Regions from separate parts of the Homo sapiens genome. Here region 2 is linked to region 1. The links come from fine-mapping of genetic effects on gene expression. A gene starts in region 1. The other region holds a variant in brackets. All regions are shown on one strand. Distances are from middle to middle.

Region 1 (12,328 bases):
TGGGCATGGTGGCGGGCACCTGTAGTGCCAGCTACCCAGGAGGCTGAGGCAGGAGAATGGTGTGAACCCAGGAGGTGGAGCTTGCAGTGAGCCGAGATGGCGTCACTGCACTCCAACCTGGGTGACAGAGTGAGACTCCATCTCAAAAAAAAAAAAAAAAAAAAAGAAGAAGGCCCAGAGTCTCACCTGGCATCCCGGCTCTGCCCCGAAGAGCTTTGCATTGTGGAAACTCCTTTCTTTCTCACTCCCTGGCCATCTTAGACAGCTGCTCATTTAAAAATATCTTTTGTGGGGACCAGGACAGAGGTCCCTCTTACCTAGCTAAAACTGCAATACCAGTTCTATACTTTTCAGTGAGTCCTAGTTCAATATCTTCTAATAAGAACCATTTCACCTATTTAGGTAGCCTATCTATGTTGGAAGATGGTAATGATGCCCTTTCCCTTCTCTAATTACTTCCTGTATTAGTTTTTTATTGCTGGGTAATACATTACTACAAACTTAGTAACAAAACAATACACATTTATAATCTCACAGCTTTTGTGGGTCAGGAGTTTGGGCCATAGGTGTATCTTCTGCTCAGGGTCTCAGAGGCTGCAATCAAGGTGTTACCTGGGTTGTATTTTCATCTGGGGGCTTGGTTGGAGAAAAATCTAAATTCATTCAGTTTGTTGGTAGCTTTTATTTCCTCAGGACTATATGACTGAGGGACCGGGCTTTTTTTTTTTTTTTTTTTTTTTTTTGCTCCTGGTTGTCTGGAGCCTGCTCTCAGGTCCTAGAGGTTACCCAAAGAACCTACAGGCCACTTGTGGTAACCTTCCATATAGGCTTATTCAACATGGCTGCTTTCTTCATCAAGCAAGCAAGGAAAAGTTCTCTCCTCAGGGAGGATCCAGCTTCTTTTCAAAGGGCTTTTACCAGATTAAGTCAGGTCCACCCAAGATAATATCTCTTTTGGTTAACCCCAAATCAGTTTATTTGGTTCTTTATTACATCTGCAAAATTCTTGGCTAAAAGCAAGTTACAGGTTCTGCCCTCGCTCAAGAGAAGAGGATTATAGAGACTGTGATCACCAGAAGGTGAGGATCATGGAGGTCATTTTCCTATTCTCAAGAGTTGTTTCTTAAGTTTTTCCAAATTTGCCTATTTAACACCTCATTCAACTTCTCTGCAAGTTTGAGGACAATAATAAAAATGATCAGGTTGTTGTTGATTCATCTTCTCTCTTAATGGGAGGGTGGGGAGTACTGATAGAAACTGTTCAAGCTGAACTATGTATTAGTACTACTCCTACAAGTACTACTATTACTACTACTCTTAGATAATATTTATTGGGCCATCACTATATATCCAGTATTACTCCAAGTATTTTACCAGAATTTAGTCTTCATAATAACCTTAAGAGATCAGGGATATATATAATTTTTTTTTTTTTGAGACGAAGTCTCTCACTTTGTTACCCGGGCTGGAGTGCAGTGGTGCGATCTCGGCTCACTGCAACCTCCACCTCCCAGGTTCAAGTGATTCTCCTGCCTCAGCCTCCCGAGTAGCTGGGATTACAGGCGCCTGCCACTACGCCCAGCTATTTTTTTTGTATTTTTTGTAGAGACGGGGGTTTCACCATGTTGGCCAGGCTGGTCTTGAACTCCTGACCTTATGATTTGCTGGCCTCAGCCTCCCACAGTGCTGGGATTACAGGCGTGAGCCACTGCGCCTAGCCATATTTTTTTTATTTTTATTTTGGAGACTATCTCACTCCATTACCCAGGTTGGAGTGCAGTGGCCCAGTCTCCCCTCACTGCAACCTCCACGTCCCAGACTCAAGCGATCCTCCCACCTCAGCCTCTCAAGTAGCTGAGACCACGGGCATGCACCACCACACTGGGCTAATTTTTATATTAATTAATTAATTAATTAATTTTTGATTCCGAGTCTCACTCTGTTGCTCAGACTTGAGTGCAGTGGCACCATCTTGGCTCACTGAAACCTCTGCCTCCTAGGTTCAAGCGATTCTCCTGCCTCAGCCTCCCGAGTAGCTGGGATAACAGGCATGCACCACCACACCTGGCTAACTTTTGTATTTTTAGTAGAGACGGTGTTTCACCATGTTGGCCAGGCTGGTCTTGAACGCCTGACCTCAAGTGATCCGCCCACCTTGGCCTCCCAAAGTTCTGGGATCACAGGCATGAGCCACTGCACCCAGCCTAATTTTTGTATTTTTTGTAGAGACTGGTTTTGCCATGTTGTCCAGGCTGGTCTGGAATTTCTAGGCTCAAGTGATTCACCTGCCTCTGCCTCCCAAAGTGCTGGGATTACAGGCATGAGCTGTGCTTGCTCGGGAGGGCTATTTTTATCATCCCCATTTTATAGACTGGGAAACATTTGCGTAGAGAATTTCAGGACACTAAACAAGTAAGAAGTAGAGCCAAGGTTTCAATTCAGGTAGTAAGCCTTCAGAACCTGAAAGCACTAGATTAAGCTTCCTGTTTTATTATTTTGTACTCAGAAACTTCAGTTTTCCATTTCAATGGCTTTTCGGAGTTTATGCTGTTTTTCTTTTTTTTTCTTTGATATGGAGTTTTGCCCTTGTTGCCCAGACTGGAGTGCAATGGCATGATCACAGCTCACTGCAACCTCTGCCTCCTGGGTTCAAGCAAATCTCCTGCCTCAACCTCCCAAGTAGCTGGGATTACAGGCGTGGGACTAATTTTATATTTTTAGTAGATATGGGGTTTCAACATGTTGGTCAGGCTGGTCTCGAACTCCTGACCTCAGGTGGTTCACCTACCTCGGCCTCCCAAAGTGCTGGGATTACAGGTGTGAGCCACCGCGCCCGGCCTATGCTGTTTTTAAAAAGTTCTGTTTTCTTTGTTCAGTTGCTACAACTGAAATGTATTGGTTTATATTTATTATTTTAGTTTAGGTCTTTTTTTTTTTTCTTTTTTTGTGAGACAGGTTCTATGATCCTACTTTACTCTAGCACTTTTTCCTAGGAAAATTATATTTAGCCTGTATCATTTTAGCCTAAATATACCAATAAAAACATAATGGTAGATAAAATATGAAAATCCTTTTGTACTAACTGGTAAGTAGCTGCCCCATCCTACCACACCCTTCATACCACCAAGTCAGGCTCAGTCCCCAGCTGAAGAGCCTCTGGACCTCTTCAAGATCCTACAACTAAAGAATTAACACCTGACAAAATAGGGTGGGGGGAGGGAAGTCTTCAAGCCTGCTTCCATTCTGATTGGTCAGTGATATAGGGATTGATAAATATTTTAAATGTGGTCCTACCTAGAAGTCTTAAGTTCAGCTTTTTTCATTCTTCATTGTTTTTGTATTTTCTGTTATTTTCTAACTTGAATACTTTCTTTTGTACCTAGTCTGACAGCCTAGGTACAAAGTTCTACATCATAAGTCAGGTCAAGTATCACTTCCTCTGTGAAGTTTTCCCATATAGTATGAGGAAGATTTAGGTTCTCTCATTTTAGAATTTTTTTATGCTTAAGACATACCACCAAAATATTAATGATCTCATAATGTTTATCTGTATTTACAACTCTTTCCCCATGAGAAACAGTGTCATTTCCTTTGGGCATCCCCAGTGCCCAGAATAGTTTGTGAGACATTATAAATATTGTATTCATTGAACAAATCAATGAATAGTTGATTAGGTCAACCAGCGGGTTTGCATGGCTGAAGAGACTGTAACTGTGGTTGAGGATATCTGAGGAGATTCGAATCCAATAAAATTGTCTAGTTGGAGTCTTCAGGAGGCAAGTCTAGAATATGAGCATATCTAAGAAAACTGATAAATCTGTGGTTATGCTGAATTATTTTTCCATTTGCTATTAGCATGGATAATCAAGAATAGACTATCATAGGCCAAGCATGGTGGCTCATGCCTGTAATCCCAGCACTTTGGGAGGCTGACGTGGGCAGATTACCTGAGGCCAGGAGTTCGAGACCAGCCTGGCCAATATAGCAAAACCCCATCTCTACTGAAAATACAAAAAATTAGCCGGCCGTGGTAGAGTGTGCCTGTAGTCCCAGCTACTCAGGAAGCTGAGGCAGGAAAATCGCTGAACCTGGGAGGCAGAGGTTGCAGTGAGCTGAGATCGTGCTACTGCACTCCAGCCTGGGCAACAGGGCAAGACTGTCTTAAAAAAAAAAAAAAAAAAAGAAAGAAGGCCAGATGTGGTGGCTCACGCCTTTAATCCCAGCACTTTGGGAGGCCGAGGCGGGTGGATCATGAGGTCAGGAGTTTGAGACCAGCCTGGCCAAGATGGTGAAATCCTGTCTCTACTAAAAACACAAAAATTAGCTGGGCGCGGTGGTGGACGCCTGTAATTTCAGCTACTCAGGAGGCTGAGGCAGGAGAATTGCTTGAACCCGGGATGTGGTGGTTGCAGTGAGCTGAGATCACGCCACTGCATTGTAGCCTGGGCAACAGAGCAAGACTCTGTCTCAAAAAAAAAAAAAAGAATAGACTATTATAAAAATGATTCTTTTTTATATGCTTACAGAAGACATAAAAAGAGAAACATAATGGGCTCTAGTATTCCAATCCAATTTCTCTTATTATTATGGAGTGTAACATTTAATATCAATATTTCTAATTTTCTGAGCATCTACTTATAATTGAGCACTGATGTACTATGAAAATTATAATAAATAAATTATAATTGAGCATCTATAATTTATTGAGTATATGCTAAGGACTGTGCTAATGATGTTACAACATTTAGCGATTAAACAATGCAAATTTAATTGTGTTATATCCCGACTTAAAACCTTTTAAATGATTCCTCATTGCTGTCCCAATGAGGTCCAACTTTTAGGCAAAAAATTAATTAAATCATTTATCATGATAGAGATGACCTCTTCTAGGAAGGCTTTTCTAATTCTCTAGGTCTGGATTAGGTGATATTTCTTTTTTTTTTCTTCGAGATGGAGTCTCACTCTGTTGCCCAGGCTGGAGTGCAGTGGCGTGATCTTGGCTCACTGCAACCTCTGCCTCCCGGGTTCAAGTGATTCTCCTGCTTCAGCCTCCCGAGTAGCTAGGACTACAGGCGCGTGCCACCACGACTAGCTAATTTTTTTTTTTTTGTATTTTTAGTAGAGGCGGGGTTTCACCATGTTACCCAGGATGGTCTCGATCTCCTGACCTCATGGTCTGCCCGCCTCGGCCTCCCAAAGTGCTGGGATTACAGGCGTGAGCCACTGCACCCGGCCCTAGGTGATATTTCTAAAGGCCACCTTATATTTTAAGTAAATTGAATGGTTCCAGTTATAAAAATAAGTATTAACAACCCTATTCTAATTTCTTATTAGTTACAAAAATTTCTTGTTCAGTTTTCTGTCTTCTTCACTAGAGTACAGATTTCTTGAGGACAGGCACCTAACAGATCTACAACACAGTGATTGCTAAATAAATACTGAACCAATACATTCATATAATGAGAAGTTACATAAAAAAACAATAACCACACGGTACCATCTAATATTATTTTCAGGCTATTCTTGCCTTGCAAAACATATGTACTTTTATTCTTTTTTTTTTTTTTTTTTTTTGATAAGGGGTCTTGCTCTGTAGCCCAGGCTGGAGTGCAGTGGTGAGATCTTCGCTCACTGCAATCTCGGCCTCCCAGGTCCCAGTTCAAGCAACTCTCCTGCCTCAGCCTCCTGAGTAGTTGGGATTACAGGCACGCACCACCATGCCTAGCTAATTTTTGTAATTTTAGTAGAGACGGGGTTTCACTATGTTGGCCAGGCTGGTCTTGATCTCCTGACCTCAGGTGATCCACCCCCCCTCAGACTTCCAAAGTGCTGGGATTACAGGCCTGAGCCACGGCACCTGGCCAAAACATATGTACATTTATTCTATCATTTAGTGCTTCCAACCTAGTTCAACTATAGTCATGATTGCCATTATACAGGTGAGAAAACTGAGTAACACACTTATTCCGAGGAACCGGCAAGGAAGCTGCAGTAGTTGAACTTGAACCCAGATCTCTTAACCAGTAAGGCAGTGACTTGTCCACTACCTCCTGTGGAATTCATTAAAGGCCGACTCCCAGCATGAAATTGAATAAATGGGATGAATACAACTTCTGGTGAGAGAGTATGATAAAAAGTGCTTGCTCTGTTACCAAGCAACTGAAAGAAAGTATGTTTTTTTCATTCCTTCATTATTAATACAATTCAAAGTACATTCTGTGAATTTAAAACATAAATGATGAATAAATCAACATACTCCTGGCTTTTATGAAAATCTTTCCCTCTGCTCTTTAAACTCTCACCTACCTCCTTCCTTCTTTCTTTTCTAAGCCTCATAGAGGGCGCTCACAAAGTGCTACTTATTGATTGAGGAAGATCCACTCAAAAAACACACCTCACACTGCAACTGAGAGACGCAGCGCCACCACCTCGGGCTTCCTTCTCTTTTCCACGCAGGAGGCGGGGCCAATGTCCCTCATTCAAATAAAAAACCAGAATTTGCATGGGGAATGGCTAGTCCTTGAGCTTATTGGCTGATAGCACAGTGGGCGGGGTACATAGCACGACCCCCCGGAGCCCCGCCCATATTAATTTGCATAACGGCCCCGGCGCGTGCAAGGGAGAAGCGGGTTTGTTTTTGAATCTGCGGAGGCGGCGGCGGTGGCAGCGGCGGCGCGGCGACTGAAGCGCGCGAAAAGCTGAGGCGGCAACGTCGGGGACGGCTGCGCGGGACGGCTCTGTAGGAAGGAACTTGGTTCCCCCTCCCTCAGCTTCCGCCCCAAAAGGTATATGTGAATCCCAGGGGCTGTTAAAACCACATTTTCTTAAATTACTATTGTATTTCTGAAGAGTCAAGACCGCATTATGGCGGCTGCGGGAGTTGTGTCTGCGCCTGCGCGGTTGCGGAGCTGCGGGCGGCGCTGCATGGGAGCACGTGATCTTGCGGGGTCGGGCTCTAGCTGCAGTTGTGCAGCTGGCGGGGCGGTGGCTGCGCAAGCGCAATATTCATTTTCAAGATCTAATGTTCTTGTTGGACGCCATTTGGGTTCTAGATTTAATTTTCCTCGTTCTTGAGGGGTTTCTTTGTGTTAACCTTAAATTCTCACAATTTTCAAGAAAAACATTACTCTAATGTTGTACTCCTGGGCCGACCTCAAGCTCTTCTCTGTTTTTTCGATTTTTTGAAAAATTGTGGACTTAATTTTCTGTAAAAATGATTTTCATTTGTGGTTCTTGATTATAATTTCAGTTTTAAAGTATTACTGGATTCAGGTTTATATTTACGGTGGTAAAGATCAGCACCTAGTGGTGTTCTCACGGGAAGTGCATTTATTTGAACTGCATATTTGCAAATACATTTTTAACCCTATTTTTACCTGTTCTGTTATGGATGTGTGGAATGTTTACAAAACAGAAACAATTTTAGTTTTGGGAATATTGGGGGAACGGGAATAGTGGAAGAAATTACAGTATAATCGAAAATGAAATCTCAATCTGAGGATTATTTTGGTTTTAAATGTTTGATCCTAAGTAAATAAAGTTTTAATTTTAATCAGTTTGTATGTTTCTGGGCATTTGAATTTTACATGTTTTAAGTTTCTTAGGTGACTTGTTCATTACTGCTTCAGCTAGATTATTGTTACTTTTGAAATTAATCAACTCATTTTCTTAGCATTTTTGTTTGCTATGATATGTAAGCTATAACATTTATTTGGTAAATTTTTCTGATGAAGAATTCTAGAAAGAACATCCATTACCCTGAGGCCTCTTTGAAGAAAGTGGACCATTAATAAAAAAAATCTGTTTTTTTCTTTTAAACACTGTACTGTATGCATGTGTGTAAGATACAGTTGTGTTTGATTTTTTAATTGTAAGTGTGCTCCTGGTTTTATTAATAGTTTTTTAGGGAAGGTAATTATAAATATGCTACTGATTAGTTTAAAATGGTAGTGTCAACTATAGTTAAATCTTATGTAACACAATTGGGGGAAGTTATATAAGATTTGATATGATTCTCCCGTTGTGCAAATTCTTTCTTACTAAGCAAAGAAACTTGCAAATGTTTTCCATAGACTTCATTTGTGGTTCATATATACAACAACTGGTTTCTTGGTTGGTTATAACTCTTTAAGTTTGAATCAGTCTACTGTCAAATGAAGACGTGCCTCTTGCTTTATAATCTCGGTTAATTTAGGGAAATTTTTATTGCCTAAAACAAATACCATTAGTAAATATTACCTAGATGTAATTGAAAGTAATACTTTTGGTTGGTGGATTTTTAAATGACGTCACATATGAGATAGAATGGAGGTAGGAAAGATTCTTCTTTTTTTCTCAAGAGAATATTTGACCTGATGTAATTCTTGGATCTCTGAGGTCTTCTACACAGAAGTATATTTAGAGAGCAGTTGTGTAATTTTCTCCCTTTTATGTTTCTGGAGTGGTTACCTAGCAGCCCCTTTCTACCACATGCTATTTCAGGCATTTTCGAGTTGAACATACACATAAATATTTCGGTTAACAAAAGAACTTTGATCTTTGATCTTAGGGCATGGTACACTTTACATTTCCAGAAAAATGAAATAGTTTGGTGTATATAAGCGTATGTTTTCATTTGAATATACAGATGATTGCTTTTTAGGTTAATATTGAAGGTAGTAAGAGGTATTTGAAAATGCTCTTGAATATGAAGAACATATTTATTGATGGGACGATTTTGCTGTCATGTTTCTTACAAGGCAGATATAATCATGTAAACTTAATAAGATTAATTAATTGCCTGAACACCAACTATTTGTTTATTAGTACTTTGTCAATAACAAGTATATTTTAAAATTTTAGTTTGGTGGTTATGATGCCACAAAATTTTGACACATATCCAACATATATAAATATTAAGACTAGGTTACTCCAGGAATGAATACCAAGTTACTGAAGTTATTTAAAATCTTTGTAGTTTTGTAAATTTAAAAATTTATATGTAGTTTAGAAAAGACAGGTTTGAGTTATTAAACAATTAGAACTATTTTTTCTTTAAATTAGGTTTTGCATATGTGATAAATGTATTTAAATATTTTTAAACTTATTCATTATAGAACATTTGGAAAATATTGAAAATTAATTAACAATGCTTAGAAATAACCACTCTAAAGGTATTGGTGATTTGTGACTTCACTTTTCCATGATTGAGCAATCTATAAATGTTTATTAATTAGTTTTTCATTGGTACCATAATTTCATTTCTACTCTTTTAATGTTATGAGTATTTTCCCATTTCATTATTCTTCTAAAATATGTCTTTAAATGGTTGCATGATACTTTATTATAATATCCCACATGATCAAATGTTCTTTTTAAACACATTTTAAAATGGTTACATATTATTGTTATCTCTAAGAAGAATTTACTGTGATTTATTAAACCTTTCATTTTTTGTTTCCTGTTTTGCTTTTTGCTCATTTCTCTATTAAAAATAATGCTACAGTGAACGTTCTTGTACTATACCTCAGAATATTTCTTTGAAATTACTTTCAAAGGACTTTTAAAGTAATTTGCAAAATTGATAAAAACTTTTTTTTGAAAAGCATTTTTTATCATATTCAATACCACCATCAATTAGATGGGTGAAAAATAGTAGCTCATTAACTTTTTTTGATAACTAGTGAAGTTGAATTTGTTATTGTTTTATATATGCATTTTTTTCATTTTCTGTGAATTAGCTGTTTGACTTTTTGTGTATTTTTCTATGATGAGTGTTACTGTTTTTCTTATTTGTTGGTAACAGCTACTTACGGCTTTGGGGTCCTTAGCTTTTAATATTTGTCACAGTAATTTTAAAATTACCTTTTAAGTGGTTTATGATTGTATATGTTAAGAAGTTTTGCATTTTTATGTAGTAAAATGTACTGCCCCCCTTTTTTTTTTTGAGATAGGATCTTGCTCTGCTGCGCATGCTAAAGTGCAGTGGCAGTGATCTCTGCCCACTGCAGCCTCGACCTCCCAGGCTCAAGCAATTCTCCCACCACTGGAGTAACTGAGACTACTGGTGAAGGATATCACACCCCGCTAATTTTTTCTTTTTTTTTTTTTTTTAATAAACAAAGCCTCATTATGTTGCCCAGGCTGGTCTTGAACTCCAGGGGTCAAGAGAGTTTCCCACTTCAGCCTCCCAAAGTGCTGAGATTACAAGCATGAGCCACCATGTCCAGCCTGTACTGCCTTTCCTTTTTCCTTTATGATTTCTACAGCACTTGTCTGCCCAGAAAATATTACCTGTTGTAAGGTGAATTGTATGTTTATATTGTATTTTATTTTATTATTATTGTTTTTTGAGGTGGAGTCTAGCTCTGTCTCACAGGCTGGAGTGCAGTGGTGTGATTTTGGCTCACTGTAACCTCTTCTTGGGTTCCAGCGATTCTGCTACCTGAGCCTCCCAAGTAGCGGATTACAGGCGTGCACCACCATGCCCTGCTTTTAGTAGAGACGGGGTTTCCCCGTGTTGGCCAGGCTCGTCTTGAACTCCTGACCTGAGGTGATCTGCCTGCCTTGGCCCCCACAGTGCTAGAATTACAGGTGTGAACCACCGTGCACAGCCTTGTTCATGTGTTTTGTTAATTTTTTACTAGAACTTTTTCTGGAAGTTTTAATAAACTTAAAAAATACTTTTACATCTATGTGGACATATCTGTGTTTTGACATATTGTGTGTTAAGATAAGTTGCTAGTTTCCATTTTTTTCCAGATATCTAGTTTCCATAGACTTGATCCATTTCTTATTGCTTTGGTAGCAAACAATTCTGATTCATATACTAGGTATATTTAACCTGGGGTCCATTGTCCTCTAGGGGTTCCACCGATCCCTTGATATACACAATTTTATGTAAGTCTGCATATGTTCATTTTTTTTTTTTTTTGAGATGGAGTTTCGCCCTTGTTGCCCAGGCTGGAGTGCAATGGCACGATCTCAGCTCACCGCAACCTCCGCCTCCCAGGTTCAAATGATTCTCCTGCCTCAGCCTCCTGAGTAGCTGGGATTACAGGAATGTGCCACTATGCCCGGCTAATTTTGTATTTTTAGTAGAGACGAGGTTTCTCCATATTGGTCAGGCTGGCTCGAACTTCCTACCTCAGGTGATCCGTCTGCCTCGGCCTACCAAAGTGCTGGGAGTACAAGTGTGAGCCACTGCGCCTGGCCTCCTATGTGCATTTTTCTGGGGAAAAAGTGATAGCTTTCATTAGCTTCTCAAAAGAATATATGATATAAAGTTTAAACAGAGGTTGACAATGACTGTATCTGGGCCTTATTCTTAGAGCATTATTGCATTGTTTTATTTGCTGTAGGACGGTACACAATTTAAATATGTGTTTGTAGTGCTATATCCTATATAAAATCCAATACCCACTCACAATTCTATTTTACAATTTTCATAGCTGATTTTGACTGTTTTTGCAGATCAACTTTAGGTTCATTTGGTTAATTAAGAAAAAAAAGCCAGCTAATGGTTTTGGTTACAATTCCATTAAATTTACATTGGGTGAATTTATAACCTTATACTATTTTTTTTAATTCATCGGTATTACACACTTCCTGTAGACTACCAAAAAGCACTATTTCCTAGGAACTCTGGGAGAATTTGTGGTATCTGTGACTTTTCAGGAGGATGTTTTCTTGGTGCAGCTATAATTTTAGTAGGGATGAATTAGGAGACAATATAAGGTTATATTTCTGTTTTCAATCTGGTTTAGGACATGATGACATAAAAGTAGTATCAGTATGAAGTTAGACGTGGGAAAAATAAGTCGCAAAATAAAGTATTGTACAATATTCGAAATCAAAATCCTTTTTTGTTAAACACAGACAATTTTTTTTTTTTTTGATGGAGGAATTTGAAAAGGTACCTTACTCCTTTTCTGGCCAGGGTGAGGCTTAATCTCATAATAAAGATAAAAAATTTTTATTTTAGTTTCCTTGGTATCATTAAATTATTATATTTTCTGATAAGGATGTTTCCCTAATTATTAGAATAAATTTATTTTCCATTAAATCTCTTTTTTATGCTGATTGCATTGAAAAAGATTATCTTGATTAATAAGGATGTATTTCAGCTGTAATTCTACTTTATATCTTTTAAATAATTGATTCAGGAGTCAGTTTATTGCCAAAATAACATTTTTATTGAACTAAACTTGTAAATTAGTGGAGGAATGAAAAGAAGAAATCACGGAAATATAGAACTCAAATGATAAAATATTATTGGCTTTATGAAAATAAATCTAGAAAATGGATATAAAATATTAAGATATTATTGGCCTTTCTTAAGCAGTTTATC
Region 2 (12,839 bases), 100 kb before region 1:
TCAGCCTCCCGAGTAGCTGAGATTACAGGCGCCCGTCACCACCCCTGGCTAATTTTTGTATTTTTAGTAGAGATGAGGGTTTCTCCATGTTGGCCAGGCTGGTCTCGAACTCCTGACCTTCGGGTGATCCACCCACCTCGGCCTCCCAAAGTGCTGGAATTACAGGCATGATCCACCAGGCCTGGCCGCCAGGATACTCTTTTAAAGGAGGAATTGGTAAATCCTTTCCCTCTGGTGATAGGGACAGTTTTGATAAAGATGGAAGGGGGAAAACCATGTGCATGACTCCAGACTCAGAAACCAAAACCCAAGTTGAATTCCATCTCAGAGTAAAATCAAGTACTACAGATGAGAAAACACAGACGGTAAGAATTATAAGACTAGTGTGTCTTTTCTTAGGGGATAAAAGCTGTTTGACAGCATCTGCAACAAGTGGTTCACAAACACGTCCATCATCTACTTCCTCAACAAGAAGGAGCTGTTGGAGGAGAAGATCACACACAGCCCCTGACCATCTGCTTCCCTGAGTACACAGGGTCCAACAAGTATGATGAGGCAGCCAGCTACAACCAGAGTAAGTCTGAGGACCTGAATAAGCACAAAGACACCAAGGAGATCTACACACACTTCACATGCGCCACCGATACCAAGAACGTAGTTCGTGTTTGATGCCATCACCGACGTCATCATCAAGAACAACCTGAAGGACTGGGGCCTCTTCTGAGGGGCAGTGGGACCTAGCAGGATGGGCCACCACCAACTCTGTACCCCCCAACCCCTGAGGAAGATGGGGCAAGAAGACCATGGTCCCCACCTGTTCCCTGGACACTTTTCTCTTCTTTCCTTTGTTCTTAGCTCCCCCATCCCCTCAGCTTCAGACATAGGGGAGGGGTTGCCACAGGCCTCCCTGTTTGAAGCCTGCCCTTGTCTGAGGTGCCAGTAATGGCCATGGTACCCCCTTTCTGGGCATCTTTCTGGTACCCCCCAGAAGCTGTGAAGATTCTATTCTACTCAGTAGCTCTCATTATGTAAAGAGGAACCCTGAAATAAATCAGTTGTTCCTGAAAGTTCACAAGAGTAAGAAAACAGACTGAATCGTAAAAGAACTAACTGGTATAAAAGAAGAAGCCAGAAAGTAGTGGACTGGGACCAGAGAAATAATATTTGAATTTAATTAATCTGTTCAACAAATATTTGCTCCTTGCTAACATTTTGCCAGGTCCTATGCTTGTTATACAGTTTTGATCAGACAGACACGGCCCAAGGGTACTTAGAAAGCTAGTTGCGGGTGAAGGGGGAGAGCCAATGTACAAGAAAACAAATATATATAATTGTAAGTTACAGTGGTGCTACAACAGAAAAAAAGAGGTTGCCATGTAAGATGATAAGAAGGTATAAGGAATTTACTTTGGACCAAGCATTCAGGAAGGCCTCTGAGGAAGGCAAAGCTTGACCAGAGGGTAGGAGGAACTCAGAGGACAGTGAAAGGAGAGAGGAATAAGGGGTGGGGGGGGAGGGTGGAGATTTCAAGGTGGAGTGAAAAATGCAAAGATCCTAAAATAAAAGCATCTCTAAGAATCAGAGGGCCAGTTTGGATGGCTTGACCTCTACCCTTCTTGAATCCCCTTTGATACTGAACATTTTGGAAAATCCCGTGTAGCATATACTGTGTGCCTTCCCACAATAACTGATGACTCTTAAATCTCACAAAAACAAATTCAACTGATGAATTCACGTCCTTTTAACATACATTTTGAAGATTATCTTAGCCCAAACCGGCACCCACATCCTTCTGAGCGTACTGACTCACTAGACAAAGCCAACCCCTCCCCTCCTGTGTACAAAAATAGCTTTTCCATATCTACTGTTGTAATTGTTTTTTTTCCAGGGCTTTATGCTCTACTGAAACTAAACACTTAAATGAGCAATTTCACTCTGGTTTTAAGCCCAGGGGAAATGACAACGGTTTTGTCTCTGTTTTGAGACTTAGGGGCAAATTTTAAATCGTTAATATATAATTAATCCTATGTAACATCATAGAAACAAAACATCTGATTCTTCTTTCAGTATATTGCACACGTAAAATGCACATGAAACCAGGTTTGGAGAGTGATTCTTAGTAACGTAGCCTTGCATTTGTGCTTCGACATAAAATTGAGACATTCTCAAGAGGCCTTGGGACATGGTGACATGTTGCGCAGTTTGGCCAGCAGAGGGAGACCAGAGAGTCGTGAAGCACGCAACGAAGCCACACCCAGATTAGGGTTATTATCTGTCTCTTCTCTGAATTTTCAAAAAACACAAAAAGAAAATGAGAAATTCTTAAAACAAAGCCCCTTTTTTATTGAAGCAAAATCCACATAACATAAAACTAGCCCTTCTAAAGTGTGCAATTAAGTGGCATCTACCTCATTCACAGTGTTATGGAACCGTCACCTCTATCTAGTTCCAAAACATAAGAAATGTTTAAATTTTCTATAAAGGGAACTTGCAAAAACCCAGGCGTGTCCTATCCTCCTTATTTCGTCACATTCCCAGTTTTGTGTCCACCGGTATTCTGTCAGGAATGGTCCCCACGTGTTCCCCCAACAGCCTTCGTCACTGTACAATTCATAGAATCGGATTCAGGGTTACAATTACAGGTTCGAAAACCAAAAACATCCCAGTTCTTTAGTTCTTCCTCTAGGAATTGCACAGTTGCAATAGACAAGCCAGTATAGGTGACTGTTTTAAAAATTCTACACATACTATGTCATTTATCAGCAAAGAAATGAATAAATTGTTTTAATTTAAATATGGTTACAAAACGGAAATGAACAATGTACTGCACCAAAGCCCTTCAGTCTTTGATGGGAAATTTAAAGTTATTCCCATCCAGAGTGAAAATTAAAGTTATTTCTAGGTTAGGATGCGAGCCAAGATTTTAAGGGCACCATGTCAACTGGTTAGATAACAACTTTGAGGAAAGCAGAACTTAATGTAATAAAAGCAGAAGGTTTACAATCTAAATCCACTTTTTTATTAAAGAATTTAATCTGCTTTATGGGGTCTTGGCCCAGGGAAGGGTAAAAAAAAAATGCCAAACTGGAGAGGCCGGGGGAGGGGAATGGCTGTAGATGACTCTGGGAAAACAGGAGGGAGGGAAACTGAAGCGCGAATGAGGCCGGATCCGCCCTAACAAAGAGGCAGAAACTGTGTCTCAACAGCCACCAAATCCAGTTCAGGGCGGTTTGAGCCAGTTTCTGAGCTGGATTGAGAACAACAGCCTCGGCAGAGACTTCACTAGGGTGAAAGAGAAAATCCAGCATGGACTTCGCAGAAAGAACTGGATTTGGCCTGGACTCGCTGGAGCCTAAAGCTGCTGCCAGTAGTGGCAAAGTCAGATGAAATATAAGGCCTGGAGCGTGGACAGTGGCCTCTTCCAGAAAGAGAAATCACACAGCACTGTCTCTGTGCCATAATCCAGTCCGCATTTTCTGTCTTGCTGCTCCTAATTGTGGCTGGTAAGGGAAAAAGGGCCTCAGGGTATCAGTTTTCAGAGAAAGCTGTCTGCAATGTTGGGGGAGGGGAGGATTATGTGTCTCCTGTAGTTTCATGTGTGTGCCTGGTGGTGGGGGGGGGAATGTGCGAGAGGGTCTGAAGGAGAGGGAACAGCACTTCACACCCTGCAGTTCACACCACCTTTCCAACAGCTTTGCTGTATTGCACAACCTCAAAATACACTGAACATAGGCGTTGTGGGAGCGCCCCACATACAAGTGGCACTTGTACAAGTCATTATCGGACCTCCTTCAGCCCTATGCATGAAATGGCAGTACCCATACCCAATACTGTCAACATTCTCTTTTCATCTGCGTCCAGAAATACATACAAGCCGTACATGCCTTTCTCAACTAAGAGACACAGCAGTATTAGGTAACAATGGAATGATAATCCTGTCCTCCGCTCCCCTCCCCCAAGTGCCAGAACCTCCTAAGATCTGATCAGTCCCACCCTGAAATGGCTCCTCTAACACTGTCTAGTAGACTGAACTGTGGTCTGCAGCTGTGGAGGCTGTGCACTGCCTGTGGCCAAGTTTGGCTCAGAACCTTCCCGAACCAGTACAGCCCTTCCCCACCAAAAATTCCTAGGAGTTGTACACAAAGTCCAGGTCGGCCTGGTGGGACACTGTGTGTGTGTGTAAATTCCCTCTCCCCTAAGTGTCCAAAGATGTTTAGAATCTTCCAGAGGCACTAAATGCCTCCAGACCCAGGGCTTCTCTGACTGAAGTCAGCCCTGGTGCGAGCTGGGGGGCAGGGCATGGAGCTTACGACTCTCCCATGCACAGGCTCAATTATAAGCAGGGCTGTAGGTTTCAGAAATATTCCTAAGAGACTGGGGAAGGGAAAAGGAAGAAGATCAGCTGAAAGATGTGAAAATGCTATTTTATTCCTTTTACCATGGATACATAGATGGAAAATTGGAACACAATCCACTCTACATTATTAATGTGCGAAAATCAAACACACGAAACATGTTGCTGACATTTTCTATTTAATGTTTATTACACAAATAAGTAACTCATGAAGCTCTTCTACGTCCATTTCATTAACTATTAGATCTGGACTGCTGGGGATTCTGATAGGTCTTTTCTTTCTTTAGGATTTGTTTCTTTTTTGGTAGGGAACAATGAATTGCCCCACATGAAGATGCAGTAGGCTGGAGAGGATAACAGTAATAACCGCTGGGTGTGGTGGCTCACGCCTGTAATCCCAGCACTTTGGGAGGCCGAGGGGGGCAGACTGCCTGAGGTCAGGAGTTTGAGACCAGTCTGGCCAAAATGGTGAAACCCCGTCTCTACTAAAAAAAAACACACAAAAACTAGCTGGGCGTCGTGGTGTGCGCCTGTAATCGCAGCTACTCGGGAGGCTGAGGCAGGGGAATTGCTTGAACCAGGGAGGCAGAGGTTGCAGTGAGCCGAGATGCCACCACTGCACTCCATCCTGGGCGACAGAGTGAAACTCTGTCTCAAAAAATAAATAAATAAATAAATTTTAAAAAACAGTAATAACCATAATACTGAGAACTCACTATAAACCAGGCAGTACCAAGTGTTTCCTATCTTAAATTATAACATACACACCGTACATTTCCAAGTTAGGAATTATTGTCCCCATTTTAGAGATGAGGAAAATGAAGTTTGGAATGATTCGGTACTTTACCAACGTTACACATCTATAATGTGGCAGGTAAAGATTCTGGCTCCAAAATCCATACATTTAAGCTGATACTATACCCGCCACCTCACTGGCAACGGATTATAAACCCTTTTTCAGATCCTACTACGTGTCAGCCTACTTCCGGCTGGGGGAAGATGGTCATAGCGAGAGGGGAAGAATTGGTTCAGTGATGAGAACATGGTTGGTTCCTGCCTTCAACAAGCTTTCAATCTAATGCCTGTTTTTTTCAAGGACAATTCAGAACGGTCTGACAAGGGATTTTTTTTTTTCTGCCTTTCGCCCCCAGAGGCACTCTGGGAAAAAGAGTTTAGAATTTCCCTGCCATTTCCGTGCTGTGCGGGGAGGAACACTTGAAATCGGGCCTGGCGGGGTACCAGGAGGCAGCACAAGCAGGCGGGGTGGAGAGGGGCAGGGCGAGGCCCCGGGAGCCGTCACCATGGCAACCCAGTCTGCTTTCCAGAACAATGTCTCTAACCAGGAAAACAGCTCCAGAGAGCTCGCTCTTCATAATCCCCGTGGCCTGTCGGGTTAGGGAATGCACAAAGGGGAGTCTTTCTCCATAGAGAAATGACTCTTTACAAGGCGGGGAACAAAGGGGAAACATTTGTTGTATAGGATCTTTCTTTGTTATCTGGCTGAAATAAAATCAACAAAGTGCAATTACTTAGTTCCTCTCCACTCTTCACAGGAAATGAACGCTGCATTGTTAGGCAAGGTTCCTTTTTGTGAATAATATTTGCTGTAATTTTTCTTTTATCCCCATTTTATAGATGAGAGATTAGTAAGCATGAATGAACTTGACCTCTGCAAAACTGTAATTTGAGAACCAGGGCGTCTTTTAGAAGGCTTTGTGAAGGAGGCCCTGCCTTTGCCGACTTTGTGATAAACCTACCAGATAATGTGAGGAGGGTTGGTGTCCACGTGCTCGGGGCCTTGGGAGCCACCAGCGCTGGCTGGACTCAGCCGCTGCGCTCTGCTCCCTGCGCTCGCCCCTCCCCCGCACCCGCAAATGCAGCCAGGAGGAAGAGGCGAGGAGGAATGCAGGAGGCATTCCAGCCCCACCCCCGCAAGCCTCCTCCAGCGAGTTCCGAAACTACTGCTAAGTGGGCTGCAAGGAAGACAGTGAACCAGCTGGTGACTGTACTCCTCCAGGCTTTCACATGATCTACAGCCTGACTACACCCAGCGCATTGAAGGTTGTCCCTTGCTCTCTCTGAGCTAGGGTGTGACAGCCCTTAAAGATGAGGGTAACATCGCGGTAGTCAGTCCA[G/C]GCCTGCAAGACCAGGAACAACAGCAGTTACTGTATGCCTAATAACCGACGATTTTCCATCAGTGTCCACACTTACAAATAATGTCATTTTTTAATAGTTATATAAACCAGAAAGGTTAAGAGTTCGGCTACCTCGTGGCAATAAAAGTCCTGCTCTCTGTGTCTGGGTGTCCCCGAGGAGCCCAATCCATGACAAAATCGGAAAAGCCAGAACTAGACCTACACCTCTGCAGCAGTCCCTTTGTGCAGTGATGGAGGAGAGAGGGTCCCTCATTACTGGAGAAGTCATGGGTCGCACACTTTCCAGTCTACGCTAGAGATTTTGTTGCCCTAAGGTCACTTGGTGACAGGAAATGCAGTCCCTGCCCATCCCCCACCCCCAGGGACTAAGTTAAGAACCACTGCCAGAGAACCCTTGGAAGGAGTTAATTGGATGAACTATGGATATTAAATTAAGGCCCAAATATGTTGTCCATTCCACAGAAACTTTTTTTTTTTTTTTGACAGAGTTTCACTCTGTCACCAGGCTGGAGTGCAGTGGTATGATCTCGGCTCACTGCAACCTCTGCCTCCTGGGTTCAAGTGATTCTCCTGCCTCAGCCTCCCGAGTAGCCGGGACTACAGGCATGTGCCACCACGCCTGGCTAATTTTTTTTGTATTCTTAGTAGAGATGGGATTTCACCATATTGGTCAGGCTGGTCTTGAACTCCTGAACTCACGATCCACCCGCCTTGGTTTCCCAAAGTGGTGGGATTACAAGCGTGAGCCACCTTGCCTGGAAAGACACTTACATTTCAGTAGATAAAGTTAATTTACCCCGCTTTAGGAAGTCAAATTAATGGATCTTTGTAGTGAATTTCTAAAGACTCTTACATTGTTATAATCTTCCTCCCCAAAGTTTGATTCTTGTATTCAACATTAATTCAACATTCATTGAAAACTTCCTAACAACCAGGCAATATGGTACTATTGGCTACGCTGGGCTTGTGAGTTTTAAAAATCACATAAAGCGTGGAATGTACTTTCAAAGAGCTTACAGGCTGGGAAGATACACAGGAAGTCAGCTATTCCAGAGTGACATGGCATATCCTTTATAAGGATAGGAAAAAGAGGATGTGATATGGGAGAAAAGAGGAGGGACATGAAAAACAGTAAGGTTGAGTGGAGTGAGATATAGCCAGTGAGTTTCTCAGAAAGAGCTGAGAAATGAGATGGAGTTAGCTAGAATAAAACCAGAGCTAGCAGTCAGAAAAACAGAATTTTCTTTCTTTTTTTTTAGACAGAGTCTCACTCTGTCACCAGGCTGGAGTGCAGTGGCGCCAATCTCGGCTTACTGCAACCTCTGTCTCCCAGGTTTAAGAGATTCTCCTGCTCAGCCTCCCGAGTAGCTGGGATTACAGGCACTCACCACTATGCCCAGCTAATTTTTTGTATTTTTAGTAGAGACGGGGTTTCACCATGTTGGCCAGGCTGGTCTTAAACTCCTGACCTCATGATTCGCCCACCTCGGCCTCCCAAAGCGCTGGGATTACAGGCGTGAGCCACCGCGCCTGGCTAGAAAAACAGACTTTTCATTCCAGATGTATTAACAAACAGGTCAGCTACCAGCCAGAATTAAAAGAACTCAAACGCTAAGACAAAGCAAGGAGTCTGAAGTCCACTAGGTCAGTAGCTTTTCAGGACCTGAAACAGGTGGACTAGCCCAGCAGAAGAACAGATCTGTTTCCTTACCCAGAAACTTCCAAACATCCTATCAGGATAATAACTAAGCTACTAGCACGAAAACCCTGAGAAAAGGTGAGCTATTGACATGCAGATTTCAACATCCAAAGCACTTTAAAATTTCAACATGTTATTTATAACTTTAGATTTCTTAGCAAAACTACACATTACTGGACCTAATATTAGAAGAGTAATTATTAGATACATGATCATGAGTCAGTACTAATGTTTTCACTAAAGTTTTCAAGTAGTCTGCTAAGACCTGTTCACACATGCTAGGCTAAGATCTAGCAGCAATTAAGTTAGGATTTATCCCTGTGCCACATACCCTAACATCCAATCTATTTAACCACTTTGACTCTTAAAGGGCAAAGAAGAAAGAGAGATTCCTTAAAAGATACGGGGACTTGTAGGGGCTGAAGTAGAGAAAGTTTGTTGCTGTTGTAACATCCCAATTTCGAGTCCCTTAGTAAGCACGTTTTCCAGACCCTGATTTTCTTTTCTTTTTTTCTTTTTTTTTGAGACAGGATCTGGCTCTGTTGCCCAGGCTGGAGTGCAGTGGTGTAATCACAACTCACTGCCGTTGCCTCTCAGGCTTAAGTAATCTTCCCACCTCAGCCTCCACAGTAGCTGGGACTACAGGTATGTGCCACCATGCCTGGGTAATTTTTCTATTTTTTGGGTAGAGACAGGGTCTCGCCATGTTGCCCTGGCTCAAGCTATCCACCTGCTTCAGCCTCTCAATGTGCTGGGATGACAGGCGTGAGCCACCACACCCAGATCCAGACCCTGATTTTCCCTTGCTGGTACTCATCAGTGATGTTAAAATATTTCAGTTTTCGGACCGGGCACAGTGGCTCACGCTTGTAATCTCAGCACTTTGGGTGGCTGAGGCGGGGGGATCATGAGGTCAGGAGTTTGAGACCAGCCTGGCCAATATGGTGAAACCCCATCTCTACTAAAAACTACAAAAATCAGTCGGGTGTGGTGGCGCACGCCTGTAGTCCCAGCTACTCAGGAGGCTGAGGCAGGAGTCACTTGAACCCTGGAGGCAGAGGTTGTAGTGAGCTGAGATCGTGCCACTACACTCCAGCCTGAGCGACAGACGGAGACTCTTGTCTCAAAAAAAAAAAAAAAATTTCAGTTTCTGGTCACAATGTAATATTGTATGACCTGACCTCTTTGAAATTAGACCTTCTGTCAATAAGGTAAAAGAGGAGGTAATATGATATGTGTAACTTCCAGGAAAAAGCTTTCAGATCTAATAAACAATTTGTCACTGTTTGAGAGATCAAGGAAGCAAGTGTTGAGTTGAAACCTCTTTGAGCCAAGATCTCCTTGCCAAGGCACATTAGACATGTAGTATGAGGAAGAAACAAACTTTTGGTGTGTTAAGCCATTGAGAGAATTGGTGGATATTTGTTATACAGTACAACCTAAATTAGCTTGATTAGTCACCTGTCGATATCTGTTTCTGTACCCTCATTTCTTCCCATCAGAAGCTGTGTCTTCTACACAGTCCTAGGCTTCAGAAGACACTGACTCCAGCTCCAGCTCCACAGGGTGGTTCAGTATAAGAATCATGGTAATATTAGTTCCTAATCACTAACTGGTTTAGTAAGTTTGCCAGGAAGTCTCAGCAGTTTCTCAGAGAGAGAGAGAAAGGATGTGCCTTTCTCCCTCTGGATGTTTTTATGACAATTATTTTATTATCTCACGGTTCTGTGAGTCAGGAATTCAGGAGCAGCTGAGCTGGACAGTTCTGGCTCAGATTCTCACATGAGGTTCCATTCCAGACATTTGCCAGGGCTGCATTCATCTGAAGGCTTGACTGGGGTTAGGGAATATACTTCCAAGATGGCTTATATGGCTGTTGGCATAAGTTCTCAGTTCATTGCTGGCTCTTAGTAGAAGACCACAGTTACTTACCCTGTGATCCACTCCATGGGGTTACTTGAATGTCCTCCTGTCGTAGTAGCTGGCTTTCCCCAGAGTGATCCCAACAAAAAGAACAGGAGGAAACCATTATATTTTATGTCCTAATTTTAGGAACAACACACCATCATTTCGACTTCATTTTATTCATTAAAGGAAGTCATTAAGTCTAGCCCACATTTAGGAGGAGGGGAATTAGGCTGCACTTTTGCAGGGAAGGAGGAATATTAAGGAATTTGTGGACATATTGTAAACCACCACAGATGTAACAGCAGGAAGTGCTGTTGCCATATTGAGTAACAGGAGGATCTAGCCTAAGGGTAAACCCTAACAGAGAGGAAAGCAGAACAGACATGGAAAGAATTTTGATGACATCACTGAGCCACTGATCTTACCATGCCTGGAACCTACGCTGGACTACTTAGTTATGTGAAAAAAAGTAAATTTCTTCCCTTACCATTTCAGTCTGTTTGAATGAGGTTTGCTGATATTTCCTGTAGGGAATGAAATCAACGTATCTAACCCACAATACATATTGTAAATTAACCTAGATATCAATATATAAATGTAAACATTTGAAAAATATAATCTCCATTTCTAAATTATTTAAATTATATATGTATAAAACTGCTTATTCAATTACATATACAGTTATATATGTATGTGTATGTATAAAACTGCTTACCATATAAGTTTTGTGCAATTTTTAAAAAATTATTCAAATAATTTCCAAATAATTTGTTGATTTTAAAAAACCTTTGGTGTGGCCGGGCGTGGTGGCTCATGCCTGTAATCCCAGCACTTTGTGGGGCCGAGGCTGGCGGATCATCTGAGGTCGGAAGTTCAAGACCAGCCTGACCAACATGGAGAAACCCCGTCTCTACCAAAAATACAAAATTAGCCACCCTCCCAAAGTGCTGAGATTATAGGCGTGAGCCACTGTGCCCAGCCACCAGATACGTTTTAAATAATTTTTTTGTGCCTTAGTTTTCTCATCTGTAAAATAGGGTACGGTTGGTGATGATAATTTCAATTCACAAATGAGTTAATAATGCTTTTATTTATTGATATATTTATTTATTTATTTTTGAGACAGAGTCTGTCACCCAGGCTGGAGTGTAGTGGTGTGATCATACTTTACAGCAGCCTCAAACTCCTGGTTTAAGGGATCCTCCCACCTAAGGCTCTCAAGTAACTGGGACTGCAGGCACACAACACCATGCCTGGCAAATTAAAAAAAAAAAAATTATAGGGACAGGGTCTCACTGTGTTGTCCAGGCTGGTCTTGAACTCTTGAGCTCAGGCCTCCCAAAGCTCTGGGATTACAGGTATGAGCCTCCACACCTGGCTAATATCCTTTTAGAATAGAACCATATAGAGAAAGTACTATGGAGGTGTTAATTTTTATTTTTATTAATAAAATCAATGTTAATGTCTTCAATCAATAGTCATTCAGTGAAGGCCGGGCATGGTGACTCACGCCTGTAATCCCAACACTTTGAGAGGCCAAGGCAGGTGGATCACCTGAGGTCGGGAATTCGAGACCAGCCTGACCAACACTGAGAAACCCCGTCTCTACTCATAATACAAAAATTAGCTGGGTCTGGTGGTACACGCCTGTAATCCCAGCTACTCGGGAGGCTGAGGCAAGAGAATCGCTTGAACCCAGGAGGCGGAGGTTGCAATGAGTGAGATCGTGCCACTGAACTCCAGCCTGGGCGACAAGAGCAAAACTCTGTCTCAAAAACAAACAAACAAACAAACAAAAATACAGTGCTTCCACACCAATGCAAAACACACCTAGACACAGAAGGAGCCTTGTGTTTGAGGATGATAGGTATTCATTTACCTTCACAAACCCTTCACCATATCTCAGATTGCTCATTGGGAAAAACGTATATTTTGTGAGATACTTTGGAAAGTCTCCATGTGAAGTTTGGTCCTGGTCATGTAATTATTATTTTCTAATTTCTTATTCTGTTATTTATTTTTTTCTTTTAAATTTACAAAAAAAGAGTACTAAAATATCAGGACTGTTATTTGCTCTGTCATCTAGGCTAAAATACAGCGGTGTGATCATAGCTCCCTGTAGCCTCCAACACCTGGGCTCCAGGGATACTCTCATCTTAGACTTCAGAGTAGCTGGGACTATTGCCTACACAAAGGACTATTATTCTTTTTTTTTTTTTTTTTTTGAGACGGGTCTAGCTCTGTTGTCCAGGCTGGAGTGCAGTGGTGCGATCTCAGCTTACTGCAACCTCCACCTCTCAAGTAGCTGGCACTACAGGTGCCCGCCACCACGCCTGGCTAATTTTTTTGTATTTTTAATAGAGACAGGGTTTCACCAAATGGCCAGGCTGGTCTCGAACTCCTGAGCTTGTGATCCGCCTGCCTCGGCCTCCCAAAGTGCTGGGATTACAGGCGTGAGCCATGCGCCCGGCCAGGGCTTTTTTTTTTTTTTTTTTTTTTTGAGACAGAATCTCACTCTGTCACCCAGGCTGGAGTGCAGTGGCATGACAGGATCTTGGCTCACTGCAACCTCCGCCTCCCTGGTTCAAGGGATTGTCCTGTCTCAGGCTCCTGAATAGCTGCGACTTCAGGCGCATGCCACCATGCCTGGTTAAATTTTTGTATTTTTAGTAGAGACGGTGTTTCACCGTGTTAGGAAGGATGGTCTCAATCTCCTGACCTC

What was found. PIP is the estimated chance that this variant, and not a neighbour inherited with it, causes the effect.
Region 2: its variant is fine-mapped to the expression of ATF7IP in whole blood (TOPMed, PIP above 0.99).

Annotation. Positions count from the first base shown.
Region 1 is chr12:14,359,043-14,371,370 of GRCh38, forward strand. ATF7IP (activating transcription factor 7 interacting protein) reads left to right here and starts at 6,640. Exons shown (of 15, transcript NM_018179.5): 1 at 6,640-6,785. It overlaps LOC124902884 (a long non-coding RNA gene), which reads right to left and starts at 8,148. Exons shown (of 2, transcript XR_007063220.1): 1 at 6,307-8,148. RefSeq lists enhancers at 6,221-7,038, 6,270-6,329, 6,800-6,859, 8,216-8,355.
Region 2 is chr12:14,254,508-14,267,346 of GRCh38, forward strand. It overlaps the pseudogene GNAI2P1. Among named protein-coding and RNA genes, the nearest start is that of ATF7IP, 100 kb to the right of the region's middle. RefSeq lists a cis regulatory region at 2,963-3,892. The variant G/C (reference allele first, on the strand shown) is at 6,490.